Linked DNA regions of Homo sapiens. The protein of the gene in region 7 purifies or fractionates together with the protein of the main gene of each other region. This does not show direct contact. Each region holds a gene or a part of one and is shown on either strand. Other genes may lie near its edges. The genes, in order: NHLRC2, ADK, PITRM1, IARS2, ETFB, EPHX1 and ASS1.

Evidence for each region.
Region 1: the proteins of ASS1 (region 7) and NHLRC2 fractionate together in Homo sapiens (co-fractionation; one large-scale study listed by BioGRID). This does not show direct contact.
Region 2: the proteins of ASS1 (region 7) and ADK fractionate together in Homo sapiens (co-fractionation; one large-scale study listed by BioGRID). This does not show direct contact.
Region 3: the proteins of ASS1 (region 7) and PITRM1 fractionate together in Homo sapiens (co-fractionation; one large-scale study listed by BioGRID). This does not show direct contact.
Region 4: the proteins of ASS1 (region 7) and IARS2 purify together in Homo sapiens (affinity purification with mass spectrometry; one large-scale study listed by BioGRID and IntAct). This does not show direct contact.
Region 5: the proteins of ASS1 (region 7) and ETFB purify together in Homo sapiens (affinity purification with mass spectrometry; one large-scale study listed by BioGRID and IntAct). This does not show direct contact.
Region 6: the proteins of ASS1 (region 7) and EPHX1 fractionate together in Homo sapiens (co-fractionation; one large-scale study listed by BioGRID). This does not show direct contact.

Annotation. Positions count from the first base shown.
Region 1 is NC_000010.11:113,857,661-113,861,160, reverse strand, and holds part of NHLRC2 (NHL repeat-containing protein 2), read right to left. Parts: intron 2,634-3,500; coding exon 2,481-2,633; intron 2,475-2,480; exon of another isoform or gene 1,159-2,474; intron 1-1,158. UniProt on the Homo sapiens protein: Required for normal embryonic development.
Region 2 is NC_000010.11:74,392,221-74,395,720, forward strand, and holds part of ADK (adenosine kinase), read left to right. Parts: intron 1-1,920; coding exon 1,921-2,093; intron 2,094-3,500. UniProt on the Homo sapiens protein: Catalyzes the phosphorylation of the purine nucleoside adenosine at the 5' position in an ATP-dependent manner. Serves as a potential regulator of concentrations of extracellular adenosine and intracellular adenine nucleotides.
Region 3 is NC_000010.11:3,155,783-3,159,282, reverse strand, and holds part of PITRM1 (presequence protease, mitochondrial isoform 2 precursor), read left to right. Parts: intron 1-240; coding exon 241-369; intron 370-1,129; coding exon 1,130-1,243; intron 1,244-1,751; coding exon 1,752-1,848; intron 1,849-2,218; coding exon 2,219-2,353; intron 2,354-3,500. UniProt on the Homo sapiens protein: Metalloendopeptidase of the mitochondrial matrix that functions in peptide cleavage and degradation rather than in protein processing. Has an ATP-independent activity. Specifically cleaves peptides in the range of 5 to 65 residues.
Region 4 is NC_000001.11:220,107,632-220,111,131, forward strand, and holds part of IARS2 (isoleucine--tRNA ligase, mitochondrial precursor), read left to right. Parts: intron 1-3,154; coding exon 3,155-3,306; intron 3,307-3,500.
Region 5 is NC_000019.10:51,347,029-51,349,388, reverse strand, and holds part of ETFB (electron transfer flavoprotein subunit beta), read left to right. Parts: intron 1-2,330; coding exon 2,331-2,360. UniProt on the Homo sapiens protein: Heterodimeric electron transfer flavoprotein that accepts electrons from several mitochondrial dehydrogenases, including acyl-CoA dehydrogenases, glutaryl-CoA and sarcosine dehydrogenase.
Region 6 is NC_000001.11:225,808,661-225,812,923, forward strand, and holds the start of EPHX1 (epoxide hydrolase 1), read left to right. Parts: upstream 1-1,463; 5' UTR 1,464-1,509; exon of another isoform or gene 1,510-1,955; intron 1,956-4,263. UniProt on the Homo sapiens protein: Biotransformation enzyme that catalyzes the hydrolysis of arene and aliphatic epoxides to less reactive and more water soluble dihydrodiols by the trans addition of water.
Region 7 is NC_000009.12:130,479,461-130,482,960, forward strand, and holds part of ASS1 (argininosuccinate synthase), read left to right. Parts: intron 1-255; coding exon 256-340; intron 341-924; coding exon 925-989; intron 990-3,500. UniProt on the Homo sapiens protein: One of the enzymes of the urea cycle, the metabolic pathway transforming neurotoxic amonia produced by protein catabolism into inocuous urea in the liver of ureotelic animals.

The DNA.
Region 1 (3,500 bases), on a different chromosome or scaffold from region 7:
TTGTTCCTTAATCATTTCCATTGCCTTATCTTCAGGTTCACTGATTCTTCTTTCTGCCTACTCAAATCTGTCTTCGAGTCTCTACATGGCCCCTGACCTATGAGGGTATGACTTATAATTTTTCAACTTTACGATGAGTTTATCTGGACATAATTCACTGTAAGTCAAAGAGCTCCTTAGGATTTAGAAAGTTATGATTTCTACTGAGTATCACCTTTCCACCATCAAGTCAAAATATTTTAAGTCGAATCATCATAAGTCAGGGACCATCTGCTGTGCTACCAAGCATTAAACATACTTTCTCAACTTCATGATATTTTCAACTTACCATGGGTTTATCAGCTGCACTATAAGTCAAGGAGCCTCTGTAGTGAGTTTCTCCTCACTGTTAGTCCACTTTTCAGTTCCAGAATTTCTTTCTAGCTTCTATTTAGGTTTTCTCTTTATTGTATTTCCATTTTCTTCATACATTGTTTTTTTAAAACTTTTTCCATATTTCCCTTTAGTTATTTGGGCATCTTTAAGACAGTGTTTTAAAGTCTTTGTCTCATAGATATGTATCAGGTATTTTTTAGAGACAATTTCTATCGGTTTATTTTTTTCCTTTGAATGGGCTGTACTTCCCTGTTCTTGAATGGGCTGTACTTCCCTGTTCTTTGTGTATGCTTTGTGATTCTTTGTTGAAACTGACAGTGAATTCTTGCTCCACTTACAAAGTATTTTGCTTTTCAGAAGCATATTTGTATATAAAAATATTTTTAATTTTTTTGTCACAATGTGCTATAAAAACAATGTTTCCAGTAAACTAGTAGGAGATTATAAGGATCCATTCTAGGAAGTCACTGAATCTGCTTAAGGTATGGGGTTAACCATGAGTTCACCAAATAGTCTTTCAGGGGTGATCTTAGGTATGGAACTGGTAAACTTTGAGATTCTTAACTCCATGTGTAATGCCATTCTAAAACACAAATGTCATCCGTCTACTAAAAAAACAAATCAAAAACAAACTTCAATCTCTGTATCCTCACAGAAGGAAAAGTCTAAACTATTAAGAACGCTATACAATGCATTTCACAATGTGCTCCTAACCTAACCTACCTTTGTCTCCTTTTACTTTTACCATGAACTCTTACAATCTTGCCACACTAAATTATTTACCTGTTCTTGGAGCAAGAATCCTACTCCTCTGTGATTCCATGCTTGTTTACCTGAAGCTTCCTCAGCCAGGAGTGTCCCTTCTGCCCCACTTTCATTTTCAGCTGCACTCCTGCTTATTTTTCAAGTTCTAGCTCAATTGTCTCCTTCTCTGAGAAATCTTTTCCAATGTTTCTAGGCAAAGTGACTTATTCCTTTCCTTAGGTTCCATAATGTTTTTTATTCAATTTTGTTACATATTTCCTCAGCAGTTAGCAGAGTACCCTGCACATAACAACATGTTCAATAAACGTGATGTCTTGAACAAGAAACACTGGCATCTAAAACCTAGGAGATAAGATATCCATATTTCTTAAATCCATACAGATAAATTTTTAATAACAGGATTTAGCTAGTAGAAATATTTGAGTTCTTGATAAATCATTTGACTGGTAATTTTAACATACAATGTATTACAATTCAAAAGCATCTGAAGTTTCAGTTGCACTGAAGATTTCTCTATCACTTCCCCTTTAAAGTTAAGTTTCAGAATATCCTTTACTTTCACACGTATATAGTCTATTCTCATCTTTACTAACACAGGATCGGTGACCCTATCTCTTTTTTTTATCCACTCCAAGATTAGTGCTTCAATTCACTTGAACCTAATTAAATGATACTTTTAATTAATTTCATTTACTCCCATGTTCTTTTTTTAGAAAGTAGACAAAAAAAATTTGATTAATTTTTCAAACTTCTAAAGCCAATAAGTATAATCTCCTACATCTTTAGAATTTGTAATACCATAAAAATGGATTTCCTAGTGTGCTTTGAAAAACATTAGCTGTAATAAATCATTTTTTAATGAAGCAGGGTCAAAGAAAGAGTATCTGTTATATTTTGCATTCCACTGCAGTTCATGTCATTCAATATTAATGAAAGCCTAGTCACATTTCCTAATAAGAACTTTAAACCTTTGTATCACAGTGAAAACAGTGTAAAATTAAGGTCAGATATTTTATTTTTTTAATAGAACAAATTTAAGTCAGCCTCAACATACAAAAAGACCTTTTAAAATATCTGATCATGAAAAATAGCAAATTATGCCCCTATCCGCAGAGAAAAACCATATACTAAATGCTGGTTCTTTAGATAGGCAAACCACTATCACTAAGCTTAATCCTTTATGAAAAGGTACATGAAGTCTTTAATTCATAGATAAGAGATTACTTTTAGAATCCCTGAAGCCTTGCCAAATGTTCATTCTCCTATGAGCTAATGAGTCAGCCACTCTTCCAGTGACTATGCCAGGACAGTCTGTTAGAAACTAATTAAAGAGCAGATACCTTTATCAGAGTATGTGTGTTCTAATGCATGGAGATCAGGCAATAGGTGAATACAGTTTATGCAGCAGTAGGTGAAGAAATCAAGGACGACTATTTTTCCACATAGATCCTTGTAGACAGAAATAGGTTCTTCTGTGTTCAGCCATTCTAATCCTGAAATTTACATAAAATAAATTACAATGATTAAAGAGAAAGATAAAATTTACCTAAAACTTTCCATTAAAATGTGACCTTTTTTTTTAAGACTAATGCAAATAAACACTTTGAGAGAGTAGCACCATATAAAGGCTGTGGCAGTTGCATGTATTTATAGTTGTTTACTATGAACCATCATTTTCTATCAACAAAAGAAATAAAAGATATATCTTTATGACTGTAACTAAACAGGTATTTGGGTTTGGAAGAACATACCAAAAAGGCAAATTAGCAGAGATTAAAAGCCCAAAAAGGGAAGAAAGAAAAGGAAGGGATGGGGGTACGGGTGGGGGAGCAGGAGGAGTAGAGGATGGGAAAGCTGCTATTATGATGCCATCTGCAAATAAAGCAAGAAAAAGCTACTAAATTCTTTCAGAAATAGGGTAACAGTCTGTGAAAAGGAGTAAAGGCAACACACTTAGGCAAAAAAAAAAAAAAAGGAAGAAATATCAAATAGTAAATGAACCTAATTACATAAACAATTAGATACAAATGGGCTACTGAGAATAAAGGTCAAGCTTAAGAATAGTAAGATATAACTAAACATCAAAAAGGAGTGAAATGTGTGTAAGGATAAACATACAAAATGCCTAAAACAGTTTCCTAAAGGAGAAGAAACTGAAATATTCTGGATTTGGATGAGACCGTAAATACAAAATAAAATATGCTAAATGTAAAGTTAAGCAAAATACACTTATTATTGTCACAGATTTCATTGAGGTAACATTAATATTAATGAAGAACGTGTTCCCTTTCCTCCAAAAAAAGAAAGCTCTGTACTATGAAGAAAGATTTTGTTAACTAATAATAAAGTACAGCATCCCT
Region 2 (3,500 bases), on a different chromosome or scaffold from region 7:
TCTTTCAGGAACTTCCATACCATTTTAGTAGTGGCTGTACCATGTTACATTTCCACCAACACTGCACAAGGGTTCATTCACTTCTCCACATTTTGCCAGCATTTTTTGTTTTCTGTGTTTTCGGTAGTAACCATCCTGATCAGTGTGAAGTGATATCTCATTGTGGTTTTGATTTCCCTGATGATTACTGATGTTGAACATCTTTTCTTGTGCTTATTGGCCATTTATATATCATTTTTGGAGAAATGTCTATTCAAGTCCTTTGCCCATTTTAAGATCATGTTATTTGTATTTTTATTGTTCATTTAGAAGTTTGTTATATATTCTGGATATTAACCTTTCATTGGATATATGGTTTGGAAATAAGTTGCCTTTTCACTCTGTTGATTGCCTCCTTTGCCATGCAGAAGTTAAGCTTGATATAATCACATTTATCTATTTTTGCTTTTGTTGCCTGTGCTTTTGTTCCATATTTATGAAATCATTGCTAAATCCAATGTCCTGAAGCTGTCCCCCATATTTGAAAATAATATATATTATTAAGTTTTATTTTTTAAACAAAGCTTTTTACCTTTGAGACTTGATTTTTTTTTGAAGTTAACAAAATATCCTGGAAATTACTTTGTATAGAAGGAGTGTTCCACAGAGCTTTTCCTTTTTTTGTGTTGTTTTGCTGGGATTTTTGAATGGCTGTGTGGTATTCCATTGTGTGGATATATCATAATTTAATCGACTGATCTTCTACAGGTGGACTTCTAGTTTATTTCCAACATTTTGCCATTACAAATAACATCTCAATACTTATATATGTGTTGTTTTATATTGTGGATGAGTCTGTAGAAGTGGGATTGCTGGTCATTAAGCTGTTACTATGTCTCATTCTTACAGTTCTGTCTTTGTTACTTTTTCCTCTCCTCATCCTTTTACCTCTCAAATATGCATGTATTTCTTTTCTATTCCAAATATTTGAGAACAGATTTTATCAAAATCTATTTTGATATCTTTTGACTTTGTATGTAGATTATTTGTAGGTTATTTTGCTACCTGTAAGTCTTTGAAACTAAACAGGTGTTACCTATAGAATCACTATAGAATATTAGAACCCTCAGGGATTTGAGCTAATTATAAAAGGTAAAAAGTTCAAATCTGTGAAACATATGCATCTTACAAGAAATCCATTAAAGCTTATAATAATTACTTCAATGAAAAAATGAGATATTTGTAACTAGAACTGTAACACTATTTCTGAATTTTTAAAAGAATTTTTTTAGATATGAGCATGTTTTAGCTTAATTTATATATGAATTACTACAATAAGTATGACAATCATAGTAACAGCCACAGCTAATATATGTTGTTGACTATGTGCTGGGTACCATGCTCAGCAATGCAAGTACATTAATTTACATCATTTCAATTAGTCCTCAACGACCTTATGAGATGTATTTGTAATTATATCTCCACTTTAAACATGAGTGAAATGAGAAATGTTAAGAGATATGCTCTAACATGCTCTAACTCATGCAGCTAGTAAGTGGCAGAAGCAAGATTTGAACCCAGAGAGTCTTCAATCAAGATGGATTCTGCTCTTTTTATGACAATGCTAGACTTCTTATATTGGGACCCACTATTATTTTCCTATATCAGGCCAGCATTTGTCTTAAGGTCTGTATGATTTTAGCTGCTGAGTCCTTAACAACTTTATGTACTTTATTTCTCTCCCCAAAGCAGTATAAGATATTACATGGTTGTTATATTAAGTTTTTTTAATCGTAAGTGATAGCACAGAATTGAAATCCCATTCATAACAGCTACAGTTTCTCACAAAGCATTCTTGTCACATCACTATCTGTGGCAGAATATTAAACTATGTGTACCATTTTTTTGCCCCATTAAATTATTTATGTTCCTGTTTTACAGTGGATGATTCAACAGCCACACAAAGCAGCAACATTTTTTGGATGCATTGGGATAGATAAATTTGGGGAGATCCTGAAGAGAAAAGCTGCTGAAGCCCATGTGGATGCTCATTACTACGAGCAGAATGAGCAGCCAACAGGAACTTGTGCTGCATGCATCACTGGTGACAACAGGTCAGTGTAATTCCAAGGGAACCACTATACTAATTGGCTATTTTAACACTGGTAAAATATGAATTCCAATGTGAATTTGGAATTTTGACTTTATAATTCCTTTTAATGTTTGATAAATGCTTATTCCTTATATCAGTTTTCCTGTATTGTTTTTAAATTTACTTTTGTTAAACATGCAGTTGAATTCATGAGGCATAATGGAATAAAAGTTTGAGGTTATTTAGTCCAGTCTCTACTTTTTATAATTAGAATCAGAAAAGGCTGATAGCTTGCTCAATGCCTTGTAGCTTGCTCAACACCTTGTAGCTAATTTGTTGCAAAACTTGAATTAGAAACAATGTTCTTTTCACCATATCCTGAGGTTGGAATACGAGAGAGAGAGACAGAGAGACAGAGAGAGAGTGTGTGTGTGTATTTTATGTATATAAAATACAACATTACATTCAGGCTCGTAAGACTTAGTCATCTAAATGGTCATCTAAACCATTTCTGGCAAATAGTAATTCATTCATATTGAATAAACTCAGTCGTGGGTAGTATACCACTAACAAAACAACCAAGTATATTTCTATACACCCTTACTTATTAGAAAAGTATTCTTAATATGAACTTGAAATATCTCTCTCAGGCCCCTCCATATATTGGTTGGTTGTTCTTTTGTACCCACATGGAGATACTCCTTCAGTGTATTCATGCACTGCTAACGTTATTACCATATCAGCACAGGCTTTTTTCCCCTTTGCAAGGGAAAAACAAAATAACTGCCCTAGCTATTATATTGTTGGGATAATCAAAGATGACCTCTTTTTAAATAGTGATTCACTAGAAATTTTGCATTACTTATAGTTGGAAATATGTAGTCTGTCCTCCTCCATTCCCTATCTCCTTTCTTTTCCCATCTTCTCTTCCTTTCTTTTTTTCCCTTTTCATCCTCCTTTATTTTCTTCCCCCTCTCCACCACGACCTTGCTCCATTTCTTCTATTTACCCACTTTATTGCTCACTACTTGACCTTCAGCAGAGGTATATTAAGGAATGGACTATTCTAGAGACTGGGGATCAATAAGCACAGTATTTACTAAATAACCAAAATACAATATTCAAAAATTATTAGGGTATGAAAGGCATTTTCAGATCTTTCCTTTAATTTTGTTTTTTATATACAGGAGAACTTTATGGTTTTAAGATTACAGTAAACATTGAAATATGGGATTCAGGGATTTTAAAAAAAAACAACTAAAAATGTTGAAATATGTTTGTTTAGACCTTTGCCCTTAGTTTTCCCAAGACCAGCCTTAATCTGTAGGTGCAAAGTTTTCCCATTAGTGAGAAGTAGGTCAGATTTTCTTCTGATATCACTTAGGCTACAGTAAAATTACTAAATTGTTTTAGTATGCTAAATTGCTGT
Region 3 (3,500 bases), on a different chromosome or scaffold from region 7:
TTGGCAGGCTGTCCCATGGTGAGCATTTCGTGTGCAGTGAAGTTAATTTGATGGTTTGTGCCCCCCTTCAAAAATCCCGGTATTTAAGGAAAATTCTCTTCTGCTCATAAAATTGTTAAATGTTGAAATGCAAGAATTTCTAGAAAGATGTGTAGTGGTTTTAAATAAAATGTGCATAAGGGCCAGTAATTTTCCCTTTACTCTTTTCTTACCTCCCCGTTCCTTTTTTTTTCAATGCAGCATCACCGACACATTTGAAGCCTTCACATTAAGTCTTCTGTCTTCACTCTTGACTTCTGGGCCCAATTCTCCCTTTTACAAAGCCTTGATTGAATCTGGCCTTGGCACAGACTTTTCTCCTGATGTTGGGTGAGTTTATGATTAGATTAGATCAGTAGTTCTCATTGGTTGGGGGCAGTTTTGCTCCTCCACCTCCGCACCCTGTCCCGGCCCCACACTTGACAGTGTCTGGAACATTTTTGGATTTTTGATTGCTATAATCGGAAGATGGCGGACCAGGAAGTTGCTGAGTGTCTCATGGTACACAGGATGGCCGCCCCCATCAGGGAACTCTGGATGAGATCCTGGATCCAGTGCCAGCCATTTGTGTCCCCCCAAGGGGACATTTGTCCAAAAGAAAAACACCCAGCACAAAGACAGCTTTTCCAGGGCCTCAGAATGTCATGCTGTTGTCTCTTACAGGTCAGGTCATTAAGTATTAGAATTTTTTTTTTAGATGGAGTCTCTCCCTGTCGCCCAGGCTGGAGTGCAGTGACGCGATCTCGGCTCACTGCAAGCTCCACCTCCCGGGTTCACACCATTCTCCTGCCTCAGCCTCCAGAGTAGCTGGGACTACAGGAATTTTTAAAATTTTGTAAATCTCAGCAGTTCTCTGTTTTGATATTTATCCTGCCATAACTCAAAAGTTTAAATTTTATTTTTAAAAAATGATGTAAAAATGACATGGATGTACACAGAACCAGTTACTTGAGAACACTGCTTTAATGAGCTTTTCAGTGGAGGGGCTGGAGTTTAAGGCGCTTCGTTCTGATCTTTAAATCAAGCATATTACGAGGGCATGATGAACGTGCCCGGATTCCAGTGCATCATTTCTGGTTTTGTCTTCTAGATATAATGGCTACACGAGGGAGGCCTACTTTAGTGTCGGCCTCCAAGGGATTGCGGAGAAAGACATTGAGACCGTCAGAAGCCTCATAGACAGAACGATTGATGAAGTAGTTGAGTGAGTGTAGCTTGTTTGTAACAATCTGCTTTCGTTCCTCATTCCTGTGTGCTTTTTGGGAGAAGCTGAGCCTGATCCATTGTTTCGGCCTTCCTTCTCTGTCATATAACATGCTTTTGTTCATATTTAGTTGTTTAAATATTATCTCTGCTACCTTCTGTTACTAAAACTCTTCAACATCTTAGGTTTTTGTTTTGTTTTGAGACAGGGTCTCGCTTTGTCACCCAGCCTGCTGTGCAGTGGCGTGATCTCAGCTCACTGCATTTTCCTCCCCTACCAGGCTCAGGTGATCCTTCCACCTCAGCCTCCCAAGTAGCTGGAACTAGGGTGCACACCACCATGCCCAGCTAATTTTTGTGTAGTAGAGATGGGCTTTCTCTGTGTTGCCCAAGCTGGTCTTAAATGCCTGGCCTCAAGCAGTCCTCCTGCCTTGGCCTCCCAAAGTGCTGGGATTACAAGCATGAGCCATTGTGTCTGGCCCATCTTTGTTCTTCATTGTATTCTTTAGGAAAGGATTTGAAGATGATCGAATTGAGGCTTTACTTCATAAAATTGAAATACAGATGAAACATCAGTCTACCAGCTTTGGGCTGATGCTGACATCAGTAAGTGATCTCTCAACAATTTTGTTTTTGTTTTATAATAGACATTTTGTCTTGTTACTAGCTTAACTGGCTTTTTGATATTTTTATGTGAAATAGATTACTTTAAATGGGTAAGGGTTTATAACTAGTAATCTGTTGGTTATTTCCTAAACATTATTTCAGCCTGTGCTTTTTATTTTATTGGAACAAAACAGGGCTAAAGTAAGTTTTTTTGTTTCTCCATCCAAAGAATTACATGACTTTTGTTATAAACAATCATCTGTGGTATATTTAAATACAGAAACTAGGATTTTAGTATCAAGTCTGGGCTGTTGGTGGAGGTTGTACTGTGGTACCAGCTGCATTGTGGATGTGGAAATCTTCCTTCCAGTACATAGCTTCTTGCTGGAACCATGATGGGGACCCTGTGGAGCTCTTGAAGTTGGGAAATCAGTTAGCTAAATTCAGACAGTGCCTGCAGGAAAATCCAAAATTTTTGCAAGAAAAAGTAAAACAGTATTTTAAGGTAAGAAAGTTGGATAATTCATTTCTCTAATTTTGAAGTTGAATTTTATACTAATGAAAGGAATATTAGGAACATAATCTATACATTTAAGTAATTTCTGTTAATGGGTGACTTAATTTCTAATTAAAAATTTAAATGCTTACATTAACTTAATTATTTTCCAGATTGTAATGCAAGTTGAGTTTTTTAGATAAATGTATATGTGCATTTTTAGTGTGTGAATATATGTATGTTTGTGTGTATGAACAAAACATCTGCATATATTGTTCTTTTATTAGTAGAAGAATATAAAATATGTGAACAGTCACCCAAATGTAATGAATCTTCTGGTTTTCATGAGTGAATTCTTTTGATGCTTGCGCGTTTGTTTTCTCAGATTTTTAGGCAGTTGTGCTTGGTTGCCTGTTCTTTGCTTTGTACTCATTACTATGGTAGAACTTTTAAAAAGGGTTCCCGTGGTGGGAGAGACTGTTGTCTGCTGTGAAGGGAAACTCTCCAGTAGGTTCCATTGTTTTAGACATGAGATATGATTTAATAATTTGACCTGCAGTTTCTCTCAGCTGTTGTAAGTTATTTTCCATGAACTTTCTGGTGTCTTCTAGTTATCTCACCTGTTTGTAGTATTTTATATGGGAGCATTTTGTGCATGTGTAGTTTTTTAATTGTTGAAACAAGGAAAGGACATGAAATCACCTAATGTTCATTTTTATATTAACGTCAACATGTATTTTGTTCTAATAACTTACGAAGTATTGAATGGGAAATGTAGTTCTAGCCTTTTAGAGCTTAATAGTAGAATGAACGCTAGACAAAAAATAGAATTCTATATTATCTTCAATTAGACTAAAATCCAAGATCTGTAGTACTTGAAAGTGCAAACCTTTTTACAACTAAGATGTAATGAAAATGTTTAGTATTGATATGTTTAAGACTTAATGACCATAATAATAATAACAGTAGAATAACAGCATATATGAATTCTGTGCTTACTACATAGGCAGGTATGGTGGTAAGCATTTTATAAGGCTTGTGTACTTGCATCAGCAAAACAACTCTTGAGGTGCGTTCTATTATTACTATTTTTAAAGTGGGAAAGTGGAACCACAGGACCAAGAACACACCAGCAGAAGCTTGTTGAGTGTTAGGA
Region 4 (3,500 bases), on a different chromosome or scaffold from region 7:
TAGACCTGATATATTACTTTTCTAGGGCTACTGTAAAAAATCACCGTAAACTTGGTAGTTTGAAACAACAGAAATTTATTCTCTCAAGTGCTGGAAGCTAGAAGTCTAAATTCATCGTACTGGCAGGACCATGTTTTCCTGAAGGTTTTATGGGAGAATCCTTACTTGCCTCTTTCTAGCTTTTGGTGGCTCCTGGAAATCCTTGGCATTCCTTGGTTTATAACTGCGTTACTCCACTCTCTGCCTGTCTTGTCACATGGCCTTCTTTAGATCTTACTTGTTTTTTCGAGACAATCTCACTTTCTCACTCAGGTTGATGTGCAGTGGCATGCTTTCAGCTCACTGCCACCTCTGTGTCCTGGGTTCAAGTGATTCTTGTGCCTTAGCCTCCTGAGCAGATGGGATTACAGGCATACACCACCACACCCAGCTAATTTTTTTTTTTTTGAGACACAGTCTCACTCTGTTGCCCAGGCTGGAGTGCAGTGGTGTGATCTCAGCTCACTGCAACCTCTGCCTCCTGGGTTCAAGCAATTCTCTTGCCTCAGCCTCCCAAGTAGCTGGGATTACAGGATACACACCACTACTCCTGGCTAATTTTTGTATTTTTAGTAGAGATGGGGTTTCACCATGTTGGCCAGGCTGGTCTTGAACTCCTGACCTCAGGTGATCTGCCCACCTTAGCCTCCCAAAGTGCTGGAATTACAGGCGTGAGCCCTCACTGTGTCAGGCCATAATTTTTTTATTTTTTATTTTATTTTTATTTTTTTTTTAAGACGGAGTCTCGCTCTGTTGCCCAGGCTGGAGTACAGTGGCACGATCTTGGCTCACTGCAAGCTCTGCCTCCTGGGTTCATGGGTTCTCCTGCCTCAGTCTCTCGAGTAGCTGGGACTACAGGCGCCTGCCACCATGCCCAGCTAATTTTTTGTATTTTTAGTAGAGATGGGGTTTCACCATATTAGCCAGGACGGTCTCGATCTCCTGACCTCGTGATCCACCTGCCTTGGCCTCCCAAAATGCTGGGTTTACAGGCATGAGCCACCGCACCCGGCCTATTTTTTATTTTTAATAGAGACAGGGTTTCACCATGTTGGCCAGGCTGGTCTCAAACTCCCAGCCCCAAGTGATCCACCTGCCTAGGCCTCCCAAAGTGTTGGGATTATAGGTGTGAGCCACCGTACCCAGCCACCTTCTTTAGGTCTTAAATGTCTCTCTGTGAATCCTCTTTTTTTTTTTTTTTTTTTTTTTTTTATTGGAGGGACTGGTTCTTTATTTCAAAAAGACACTTGTCAATATTCAGTATCAAAGCAGGTGGACTATTGATTTCTGTTTCTCCCAATCGGCCCCAAAGAGACTATATCAAAGGACAGTACGTTTTAAGCCAGTATGCTGCAGGATGTACACCTGACAGACTTTACAGAAACCTTATCGGAAAGTGGGGATTGGGTAGGGAAAGAAACTTTAAAAGATCAGCAAACTGCCAGCCCGGCCAGGCACGGTGGCTCACCCCTGTAATCCCAGCGCTTTGGGAGGCTGAAGCGGACATATCACGAGGTCAGGAGTTCGAGACCTGCCTGGCCAACATGGTGAAACCCTGTGTCTACTAAAAATACAAAAAATTAGCCAGGTGTGGTGGTAGGTGCCTGTAATCCCAGCTACTCTGGAGGGTGAGGCAGGAGAATCACTTGAACCTGGGAGGCAGAGGTTGCAGTGAGCTGAGACTGCACCACTGCACTCCATCCTGGGCAACAGAGCGAGAGTCCATCTCAAAAAAAAAAAAAAAATCTGCCAGCTCACAGACTGTAGAGGGCTGTCACAGTCAAACTGGGTGGCCAGGGTGCCACCCAAAGAAGCAAAGTTTCAAAATAATACAAAAATTTAAAAAAGTTTTGTACATAAGCTATTTAAGATTTCTCTAGCATTAACTGATATTAAGCACAATGAGATGGCACTTTTAGAGACAGCAGCTTCAAACCCAGAAAAGGGTAATGAGATGAGTTTCACATGGCTGAATCAGTGGCAAAAACATAATCTTCTTTCTATCCTCCTCTAAGAACACCAGTGCTCCCTAATGCAGTGTGACCTCATCTAAACTTGATTACATCTGCAGAGGCCTGATTCCCAAGTAAGGTCACATTCACTAGTGCTGGGGGTTAGATCTTCTTGGGGACACAGTTCAACCCACTACACCTGGTTTCCTCCAGATTACCTGGAGACCATTTTAAGATTCATGGCATGAAAGATTATGGATCTAAACTTCAAATGTAGAATTCTAGATATAATCTGTTCATCTTTTCTTTGACGTGAAAAGAGGTAGAAGTGGCATAATTTGGAGTCTGATTAAGATTTTACAGTCCGTGCTTTTTTTTGCCAGGAGAATCCCAGAGCACGCCTTTGATACCTGGAAGGTGACTACTCTTTTTTATTTTATTTTTTTTTGTGAGACAGAGTCTCGCTTTGTTGCCCAGGCTGGAGTGCAGTGGCACAATCTCGGTTCACTACAGCCTCCGCTTTAGCTTAGGTTCAAATGATTCTCCCACCTCAGCCTCCCAAGTAGCTGGGATTACAGGCTCACACCACTGTGCCCTGCTAATTTTTTTGTATTTTTAATAGAGATGGGGTTTCACCATGCAGGCCAGGCTGGTCTTGAATTCCTGACCTCAAGTGATCCTCTCGTCTCTGCCTCCCAAACTGTTGGGATTACAGGCGTGAGCAACCACGCCCAGCCAAGTTGACTACTCTTTTATTTTTTGAGACGGAGTCTCGCTCTGTCACCCAGGCTGGAGTGCAGTGGCACGATCTCGGCTCACTGCAACCTCTGCCTCCCAGGTTCAAGCGATTCTCCTGCCTCAGCCTCCTGAGTAGCTGGGATTATGGGCACACACCACCATGCCCGGCTGATTTTTGCATTTTTAGTAGAGACGAGGTTTCACCATGTTGGTCAGGCTGGTCTCGAACTCCTGACCTCGTGATTTGCCTGCCTCAGCCTCGCAAAGTGCTGGGATTACAGGTGTGAGCCACTGTGGCTGGCAAGGTGACTACTCTTATTGCCACCTGTTGCTGCAGATTTAGTATTTTCTGGAAGTTTAGAGCATTTTTAGGATTTTCACAGTACTTTTTAATTATGTCTAATTTGGTGTTTTTTTTTTTAAAGTTATAAAGATGCTTCAGACTGCAAAGAATTTGTTGAAAGAGGAGAAATTGGTGCATAGCTATCCGTATGACTGGAGGACCAAGAAACCTGTGGTTATTCGTGCCAGCAAGCAGTGGTTTATAAACATCACGGATATTAAGACTGCAGCCAAGGTATAAAAAGCATCCTGTTTTAACAGGTCGGGCATATCATTCCCTCAGTATAAAGGGGCTGCATGTGAGGTTGAGGTGGGGTTTCAGGAGTAATAGGGATTGCTGCTATTATGATTTAGTTTCATAACATTGTAGAATTTTAGATCTGGAAGGACCTTGGACTTCCATTTTTTCATTATACATGTGTGAGAAAT
Region 5 (2,360 bases), on a different chromosome or scaffold from region 7:
AACAGACAAAATTATATTTTATTTCACCCCATTATATCTAAAATATTATTTTAACATGTAATCAACATAAAAATATTAAGATACATATGCTCTACAAGCAATGGGGTTACGTCCTGATAAATCCATCATAAATTGAAAATATTATAACTGAGAGAATGCATTTAATATTCTTAATCTACCAAATATCATAGCTGAGCCCAGCCTACCTTAAACATGTCACAACACTTAACGTTAGCCTACAGTGGGGTAAAATAATCTAACATAAAGCACATTTTATAATAAAGTGCTAAATATCCCATGTAATTTATCAAATACTGTACTGGAACTAAAAAAACGGAATGGTTGTACGGACACTGGCAGTATGGTTTCTACTGAATGTTTATCACTGTCACATCATCGGAAAACTGAAAAATCTTAATTCAAACCATCATAAGTCAGGGACCATCTGTATTTTACGTTTTTTGGATTTTCTTTGTACTAAATCTTCAAAATTCAGCATGTATTTTATATTTACAGCACATCTCAATTCAGGTGCTAAATTTCTATGAGAAACACATTCCTAAAGATGACAGTTGAAATAGATTTACACACCCAAGTTGTTCAAAACAAACTTAAAAGTTTTCTAGTAACTGCATTTCCAGTAACTGCATTGGGTATCTGTGTTTTTTTGTTTGTTTGTTTGTTTGTTTTTGTTTTTTTTTTAAACAGCTTCGTTGAGTTATTTACCTACAATAAACCGCACATATCTAAGTTGCACAATTTGTTAAGTTTGCTTTTCTTAAACTCTTTTATTTAGATAGAGATGGGGGTCTCACTATGTTGCCCAAGCTGGTCTTTAACTCCTGGGCTCAAGCAAGCTGCTCACCTCAGCCCTCCAAAATTTAAGTTTTGATATGTGTTACATCCATGAAATCATCACCACAATCATGATAATGTGTCTTGAATTCTCAGTATTTATTTATTTTTATTTTTTTGAGGTGGAGTCTTGTTCTGTCCCCAGACTGGAGTGCAGTGGCGCGATCTTGGCTCACTGCAGCCTCCGCCTCCCGAATTTAAGCGATTCTCCTGCCTCAGCCTCCCGAGTAGATCGGATTACAAGCGTGCATCACCATACCTGGATAATTTTTGTATTTTTAGTAGAGACAGGGTTTCGCCATGTTGGCCAGGCTGGTCTTGAACTCCTGACCTCAAGTGATCCACCCGCCTTGGCCCCTCAAAGTGCTGGGATTACAGGCATGAACCACTGCGCCTGGCCAAATTATCAGTATTTAAATTTAAATAAAATGTAAAAATTCATTCCTCAGCTGCACTGGCTGGACAGCCACACGCAGCCAGTGGCTACTGGATGGGACAACACATTCAAAACCATTATCCTGTTTTATCTTCAAAGCATTTACCACTGTCTGACTAGCTTCTCCAACGTGCGCCCTTCTTGCTCTCATATCATGTGTCTTATTTTCTTCTTATTCCTTCTGATTGGAAATGATCTCATTTGTGTGTGTGTGTTTTTCCCTGGTGACTGGTTGTCTTCCCTGGCAGAATATGAGCCCACCCAAGCTGGTGCTTCACTGGTCGTGTTCACAGTGTGTCTCCAGGGGCAGGTTCATAAGGGCACTAGGAGGAGGTTGTGAATGAAGGGAGGTGATGTTCACACTAAGACCTGAAAAATGTGTCCAGTTAATAAGTGGACAGGGACAAAGGTCGTTAGACAAAGAGGAGTGTAGGTGGCATCAGTTACCAGGGGAGGAAATGTTGATTCAGGACTGAGAGGCAAAGGGACCTGGCTAGAGGACGGGGTCCCAGAAGGTGGTTTAAGGACTGGTGTGGACACACACAGTTCTGTTGTCTGCCCAGCGGAGGGGCCTCACGGGGGGCCGTTGGGAGCCAGATTGTCAGCTTTTGGATTTACCAGCTGTGGGTGGCAGTGGGCGTGTAACTCAGCATCTTGCTGCCTCAGTTTCTCTCATCTGTAAAGTGGGGATAATAACATTTACCTCATAAAGTTCCTGCGAGGATTCGATGACTTGATACATCAGTTGCTTAGCACAGGGCTCAGCACTCAGTACATGTTCCCTGTCAGGAAGGCAGGGAGGCCTCACTGGCAGCATCAGGACATGGGACATCAGGACATACACCGTGGCTCTCAGGGAAAGGAAAAAGACCCTCTCCCAGGTGTACAAGCTCGATTCTAAACCTCATGGGACCCTGCATTGTTCGCTCCCTCATTCATTCACTAGTCCATGCGTGTACTCAGTAGTGGCATAAGCAGACTGCTCGGGTCGGACCTGAATTAGCCTCACCCACTCTCCTCCTACACTGTCCCTCCCCAGGGCACATTCGCCTCCCAGGTGACGCTGGAG
Region 6 (4,263 bases), on a different chromosome or scaffold from region 7:
AGCCCCACCTCTGGCGTTAAGTCCTGACTCCTACCTGTTTCACCATCACTGCAGTTTTAAGAGTAACGAATTTGGGTCCCCTGGTGAAGTGGCCAGAGGCAGAGCTTCTGTGTGAACTATTTGGAGGGGAGGGGAAAGAACTCTCCCAGACTGCAGGTTCTGAAAGGAATACAGAGATGTCAGAGACTGCAGTTGCAAGAGAAAGCTTTTATAGGAGGGTGTAGAATTAAAGGACAAGAGGACTCTACATGTGGATGGAGGAGGGCACCCTGTCCGGCAGTACTGCAAGAGCAAAAGTTTGGAGGTGGGAGTGAGGTGAGTGCGTCTGCCGGCCAGAATTCTTGGGCCAGGGTGAGCAGAAAGGTTGGAGGCCAAGGGAAGGTGGGTGGTGGTGAACCTTATCCTGAAGTGTGCAAGGTGACAGTCAGAAGCTTAGAACTCCAGCCACGGGCCCTGCATGTGGCCTCCTAGCTGTAGTCTGTCCACCGAGATCGTGAGGATGCTGGTGGTTGAAAGAACTGCACCTCTGAGCAGGTGAAGAGAGAAGCTAAGGAGGGGTGATGGCAGAGGCGATGGGACAGGCTTTCTAACGATGAGGGGCTGGGGATCAACGCTCTCACGGAAGCTAAAAGAGCCCCAGCAACCACCCGCCTGGGCCCTGAGCTCTCTCCAAAGCGGGAGGGGATTCACTAAGAGGTTGCTCCCCTGGCATTGAACTCAGCATCCTATACTGGTCCTCACCATGAAGACCCCCAAGAGTGCTTCAGACCATTGCTTCTCACATTCTCTGTATAAAGACACTAATTTGTTTTTAGATTTCCAAGCATGTCACGGACCAATATGTTTGTTAAATATACTAAGAATGAATTGCTAGAAAGATGAAATTAAAAAGACATACACCGCCAGGTGCAGTGGCTCACGCCCATAATCTCACCACTTTGGGAGGCGGAGGTAGGTGCATCGCTTGAGCCCAGGAGTTCAAGATCAGCCTAGGCAACAAAGTGAGACCCCCGTATCTACAAAACTTAAAAAATTAGCCAGGTGTGGTGGCGCAGTCTGTAGTCCCAGCTATTCTGGAGGCCGAAGTGGGAGGATCGCTTGAGGCTGCAGTGAGCCGAGATCGCACCACTGCACTCCAGCCTGGGTGATAGAGTGAGACTCTGTCTCCAAAAAAAAAAAGGACATACATCATGCAAGTTTGGATTTTTGTTTTTAGATTCAACTGACGAAGTTACGGGATCAAACTGCTGTAGGAGCTGCCAAACGCTTCTCTCCATTTCTGGCCGCGGGGCCGCGGACCGCCCTTTAAGTAGCCCGTTTTATCCCTGGCAGAGGTGGAGCCTTAGGCAGGCCTAGAGACTTTCCCGGGTCCTCCAGGCCGGGGAACGCCCCGCTCGGAGGCCGGGCTTGGGCGGAGACTGCGCCGGGGCTGCTGAAAACTAGCCGAGGAGAGCCAGGGAGCCGGAGAGATCGCGCGCCTGCCGCCGCCGGAGCCTGCGAGCCGAGACCGTAAGCGCCCGGGGCCGGCCGGGCCCGCACTCCCCGGACGCAGACGCGGTTCGGGCTCCGCGCGGGCTCGGCCGCCGGGGTGGGCGGCGGGCCGGGGCGCCGAGGGGTCGGGGCTGCGGTCGGCCCGCAGGGGTGCAGAGGGACTTGTAGTTGGTCCGCCCCCAGCTCCTGCCCCGGCCAGGAGACTGCGCGTGCCGCCTACTGGGGGAAGGAGCCTGCAGGCGACCGCGGACTTCTCGCAGGGAATTCCGCGTCCCAGACTGTGGGCGGACGCCGCAGGGAGGGAGGCTCGCGACCCCGAGAGCGCACCGCGTCCCCTGGCCTGGGCGAGCTCTGCTTCCAGGGCCGTGGCTCGCTCGGCGGTGAAATGCACTTAATTTGTCACCCAAGTCGGAACACTGATTTTCATGCGCGTCCGTGTGAAGAGACCACCAAACAGGCTTTGTGTGAGCAACATGGCTGTTTATTTCACCTGGGTGCAGGCGGGCTGAGTCCGAAAAGAGTCAGCCAAGGGAGATAGGGGTGGGGCCGTTTTATAGGATTTGGGTAGGTAAAGGAAAATTACAGTCAAAGGGGGGTTCTCTGGCGGGCAGAGTGGGGGGGGTCACAAGGTGCTCAGTAGGGGAGCTTTTGAGCCAGGATGAGCCAGGAGAAGGAATTTCACAAGACAATGTCATCAGTTAAGGCAGGAACAGGTCATTTTCACTTTTGTGGTGGAATGACATCAGTTAAGGCAGGAACCGGCCATCTGGATGTGTAGGTGCAGGCCACAGGGGATATGATGGCTTAGCTTCGGCTCAGAGGCCTGACACTGATCACACCTTTTAGTTGAAATGCGCTTTCATCTCCATCTGCTGCCGCAGCCGCCGCCCGGCACCCCCTCGCTCTGGTCTCGGGATTGAAGGCCAGCCCTCTCCTCTTGTAGAACAGGAAACTTGCCCGGGAGTTCACCTTGTAGTTGAAGCCAGGGAATGTGGTCAACCTGAGCAAAAGCGCCGCGGAGACCGAGTGGCCGCCTGCCTCCCTCCCTGGCAGATGTCGGTTTTCTCTGAGCTTCTGGCTCCTTCCTTGCCCTGGCGGCTCCCGAGATCTTGGAGGTGGGGTGCCTAGCAATGTTGTAATCCTAATTTTGACTTTTTTTTCTTAAAGTTGAATGCCCCCTCCATAGCCCACCTCCCATTGTTTAAACTTCAGGTTCCGCAAAGCCTGGATCCGCCCCTACAGGCAACACTCGTTGTCCTGGAAGTTCTGTGAGGGCTCAGCTTGTGGCTGGAGGTGGGAGGTGAGGGGGACCCATGCACTTGGCAGGCCCGCTTCCAGGACAGCCCTTTGCTGGGATTGATGAGCTGTTGGTGGAAAATTGTTGAGGACCTTGGGGTTGGTGGCTGTTTCGGTACCACTGTGCAGCCTCCTCTGCATCCAGCATAATTTAAAATAAACATTTTCAGGAAGCCACACTTCTCCAGAAAGTAACATTGTTTTCTGGTGTAACGGTTGCCTCCTTCAGGGAGCTAGGTTTGGGGGATAATAGGGGGCCTTTCACTGGCCCCACTTGGTCTGACTTAGCAGCAAAAACTCTGCGAGTGCTCTCCAAGCAGTTTTTCTTTCCCAAATTTCCACACCTAGGAGGCGCTGAGGAGGCATGGGCGGTACTTAGGAACTGCTCACTGTGGAACTGAGGCACAGCGGGGAGCATGCCCTCGTGGGATTTGCAGTTCTAGGGGCAGAGGGATAATAAACAAAATACATTTGTAAACTATAAAGTATGTTAGAAGATGATGTGTAATATGGAGATAAATAAAACTTTAAAGAGGGGAGAGGAGTGCCAGGTGGAAAGGGAAGGCCTCACTGAAGGGTGGCACTGGCATAGACCTGAAGAGTTAGGGAGCAGCCAAGCTGCTGCCTGGGGTGCAGGTGCAAAGGCTGGGGGCAGGAGTGTGCCCAGCTTGAATGGCCTGATGTTTGTGTTTGCAGAGTGTGGGTCAAGCTGATGAGTGACCTACTGGATAAACTGAACTAGCTCAGTCTGTAAGTGAGGGGACTCCTGAGCTTTCTGCGGCCTTCTTCCCAATTCCAGGAAAGGAAGGACCTTCCACAGAAAATAACTACTCAGCAAGACAGCCAGGGTGAACCTCAGCACCATCTGTGACAAGCCACATGCTCTCTGCGTGATGCCTCCTGCCTCTCAGCTGTGCCTGAAGCACACTAGCTGGCATGGACTTACGCGGCTGGGAACATCTTCAGGAAGCCCTGAATGAGGGCTCTGTGGGCAGAGGGACCTTTGCAGAAAGGGCATCTTGACCACTGCAGGAGGTGGAGTGACTCTCCTGGGGTGTCCTGGTTCCTGCCTGATGTCTTAAGCATAACTGGCATTTTCAGGGAGCCCAGGTTCACCAATGCACAGTGCCCCTCCTGTCGACCTGATACCCAGGCTTGGTGATTGCTCACCTGGCACCTTGATTCCCGTTCTGGTATCTTGGCCCAGGCCCAGACATGTGAAAGCAGGGGCTACCGAGATTCATTTCTCAGTTCTTACGCCAAGAGGTTCAACCACATGGATCACAGCTGGGTGTACCAAATAAGGGAGGACCAAGCATGAGCTGGTCACCCCTGCTGAAGAAGTAGCTCGAAGCCCACCCACTCGGGGACAGAGTGGGCACAGATGGGATAGACAGATAGTGATTCGAGGGGTGCCTAGGATCTCATACTGAAAACCCACCTCTGCTAGGGCCATAAATCCCATCAACAGCAATT
Region 7 (3,500 bases):
AAGGGGCAAAGAGAATGGGAGGGTGGGGGAGAGCGTTTTTATTGCATTTTCTCTTTCATTCTGGGGGGCTTTCTCGCCCCTTCTCTCCCTGCAGCAGGCCTCAACCTGCACAGGGCTTTTGAAGGAGTCATTTGGAGTCCATATCTGTCACATCCATTTAAGGCGTTTCGGGAGGAGGGAGAGGGTGGGGTGGCGGGTGCAGACTCCTCCGCTGAGCCGGGCCCAGAGGCCCACTGCCCTCTCTTCCCACCCTAGGGGTCCCTGTGAAGGTGACCAACGTCAAGGATGGCACCACCCACCAGACCTCCTTGGAGCTCTTCATGTACCTGAACGAAGTCGCGTGAGTGTCTGCAGCCCTGTCCGGCCTCTTGGGAACCGCCGTCTCGGGCGAGCACGAGCCTGGACCGTTGCAGCTAATGGTTGTGGCTGAGGCTCAGGGGTGCGGAGCACAGGCCATGTCCCTTCCCCATAGCCACAGAGTTTCCCGGACCAGGGGGACCCATTTGGCAGGAGAGGCTCCGTGGTCCTTAGCCTTGGAAGATAACAACCCCAGGAGGTCTCCTGCCTCCAAGGGATCATTAGGCCGGGGCTCTCAGGCCCTTGGCTGGATGGGAGGCCAGGATAGAAGGAAAGGGAGCAGTAGTTAGCTGTGGCGCTAGGCAGGGCCCCAGGACACAGGGAACGGAAGGAACAATGTGAACTCACACCTGGGCAATCCCTGCTCTCTCTGGGCCTCAGTTTCCCCACCTGTCCAGTGGGCACCTGGACTAGGTGACCCGGCTCAGATGTCCTCTTGAGTCTTAGATCCTGAAATGCTGCCTAATGTGTGGCCTAAGCTGTGCCCACCCTGGGACAGCCCAGCTGGGTGGGTGACTCTGAGCCTTGCGGTAGCGCCCGAACCTAATGGACCAGTTCTTCCCACAGGGGCAAGCATGGCGTGGGCCGTATTGACATCGTGGAGAACCGCTTCATTGGAATGAAGTCCCGAGGTGAGTCTGCTCAGCCTCCCTCAGGGCCTGCCTCGGGACCCAGCAAACCCAGAGATCCCTGAGACCCTGTCCCCTTTGGACGCTACTACCCCCATGCTCCGTGGGCGACCTTGGGCACGTCCTTTCACCACACCCCGTGAGACCGCAGTTTCCCTCCTGCCAAGTGGGGATCGTGGGCCCTTTGCCCCTGACTTTCAGGGTGTTATGAGAAGAGCTGTCCAAGGGCTGGGAGAGGCCCAGGAGGGCCTGGGGAGTCTCCGAGGAGCAGGGAGGCCAGGGCCAGGCCTGGAGGTCAGGCTGTCTTGTGTCTGGGGTGGGCAGGCCGGGTGTGGAGGCAGACCGTGCAGGCCCGATTTCGTGGTCATTAAGGCCGCATGGAGGCCGCCGGCCAGGCAGGGCGAAAATCCTGCCAGGGGTGGGCGCTGTGGCTGCACAGGCACTGGGAGCCGGCCAGGGCCTAAGGACCTGTCCCAGCATCAGGCACGGCTCACTGGCCCTTTTCTCCAGGGATGGGGCTGTGCCACAGTTGGGGCTGTGCCGCAGTTGAGGCTGAGCTTCAGTGTGACATGCCTGCCACCTCGGCTGGCCTCTAGCCTGCCTAGCCTCGTATCCGCCTGTGGCTGGGCCCAGGAGCAGGGCAGTTGGTCCCCAAGCAGGTGCCTCTGTCTTCTCTTAGTAGCCAAAGCCCATGATTCCCTTTGTCAGCCAATCAGCATTTCATCTTGACCACAACCCTCCTCTCCAGGACTCAGTTTCCCCATTCATACACCAAGGGGATCTCAGCTCCCTGAGGGTCTGCCAGTGTGTGATAAAGCCATGCTGTGTTCTTTCTTGGGGGTCCTAAGAGGGAAAGAGCAAGGTTTCAGCAGTTGCAGCCCCTGAATTGGGCACCTGAATTTTTATACTGGTGGTGGGGTCAGGGCTTCCTGTTTCGGTAAATGTTCAGGTCTCTTTGCTTAGGGTTGATTTGAAAAGATACCACAACCAAATATCACCTGGCCACGGTATAGTCACGGCCCCATGTCTCTCAGGCTATTTTTACTAAGATTCTAAAATCCAAAGAGAGCCGATCACCCCATGTGGGCCAGAAGAAAAGGGTGGTGGTCCGGAGGGCAGGATGCCTGCTTCTGGTCTCAGGTTTGCCCTGCCTTGCCCAACAACCTTGGACTTGTCATCTATCGCTAGGCCTCAGTTTCCCCAAGTGTAATGCGGTAGGCGCTGGGAGTTGCATCACTCTGGCTCTGACCTGTCTGCGTTTCCCTGGAAAGGCATGGCAGCATGGACCGGGGCGGGGACGGGCTTGCCTCGAAAGACATGGGAGCGCGGAAGGGGAGGCAGGCTCGCCTCTTTCTTGTGGCTTTAGCTCCTTGCTTGCTGTTATTCAGGAGAAACAACCTAATTGAAGCTCTGGGGAGGCCTTGAGAACAATGTTACTAATTAGCTGCTCCTTTTTATCCGGGCTTACCTTTGTCTCTTACCTATATTAACATGTGATTAGATGCCCCTTTGTCGCAGCCTGCCCTTGGGAGCCAGCGCGGTGTGCACCCTCCAGGGAGAGCTGGGAGGGACCTTGAGGAGCCACAGACCAGCACCCCATTTACAGATGCGGAAGCCAGGGCTGGGGAGGGGTGGGATAGAGGGCTTGCTTCAAGTCCCAGGCACTTTAGTGGCAGGACCAGGACTGCCATCTGGGCCCAGAGTGGCATGGAGTGGAGGGCTAACAGCTTAGACTGGAGTTGGACAGATCTGGGTTCAAACTCATGTATGGTGGCAGGAACTGGTACACTGGAAGTGCTCCATAAATAGCCATCAGTCCCCCGGGCATGTGGAATGGGGACAGAAGCAGCCCCCATCCTCTGGGAGCTGTCAGTGTGGCGGGGGGTGGGGTGGGTTCCAGTATTGCACCTGTCTTATCATAATAAGGGCCTGCCACAGGCATGCCCTTGCCATGCCTGTGGCAGGCATCACCAGTCAATGCTGGCATTATCCTGTTGACTCCAGAGGTATCTCAGGGCTGCTTGCAGGCACTACCAAATGATCAGGATTGGCATACGTGATGAAAGTGTATTGCCTTCCCTATTGGAAAGATAAGGACTGGCCTGAAGTCACTGTGAAATGGCATCCTGTGGGGTGGGGCGAGTCAAGCAGAGTTGAGCAAAAATGAACTGAAGGAGGTGGTTAGTGATGAAAACCTGGAATGCACTATTCTGAATGTGGAATGGTAGCTGACAGCATTCCACGGAGGCTGGACCTTTTTCCCAGAATGGGGGCCTCATCCCCGTAGAAGGTCAAAGCCATGAGATCAACAGTCTGTTCCAATCCCCGTGGCTCCTTACCACCCACCTGGGGAAAGCTTCCTGGAGCCCAGCCTTCACTCTGCCCTGGTACTTTGTGTGTGCTGTTGGAGGCTCTCCCCAAAAGCACAGAATTTAGTCAGTGTCGTACAGGGAAGAAAATCGGGATTCTGACGGCAAGAACTTGCTGTGTGATCTTAGGCAAGTTTCTCCCTCT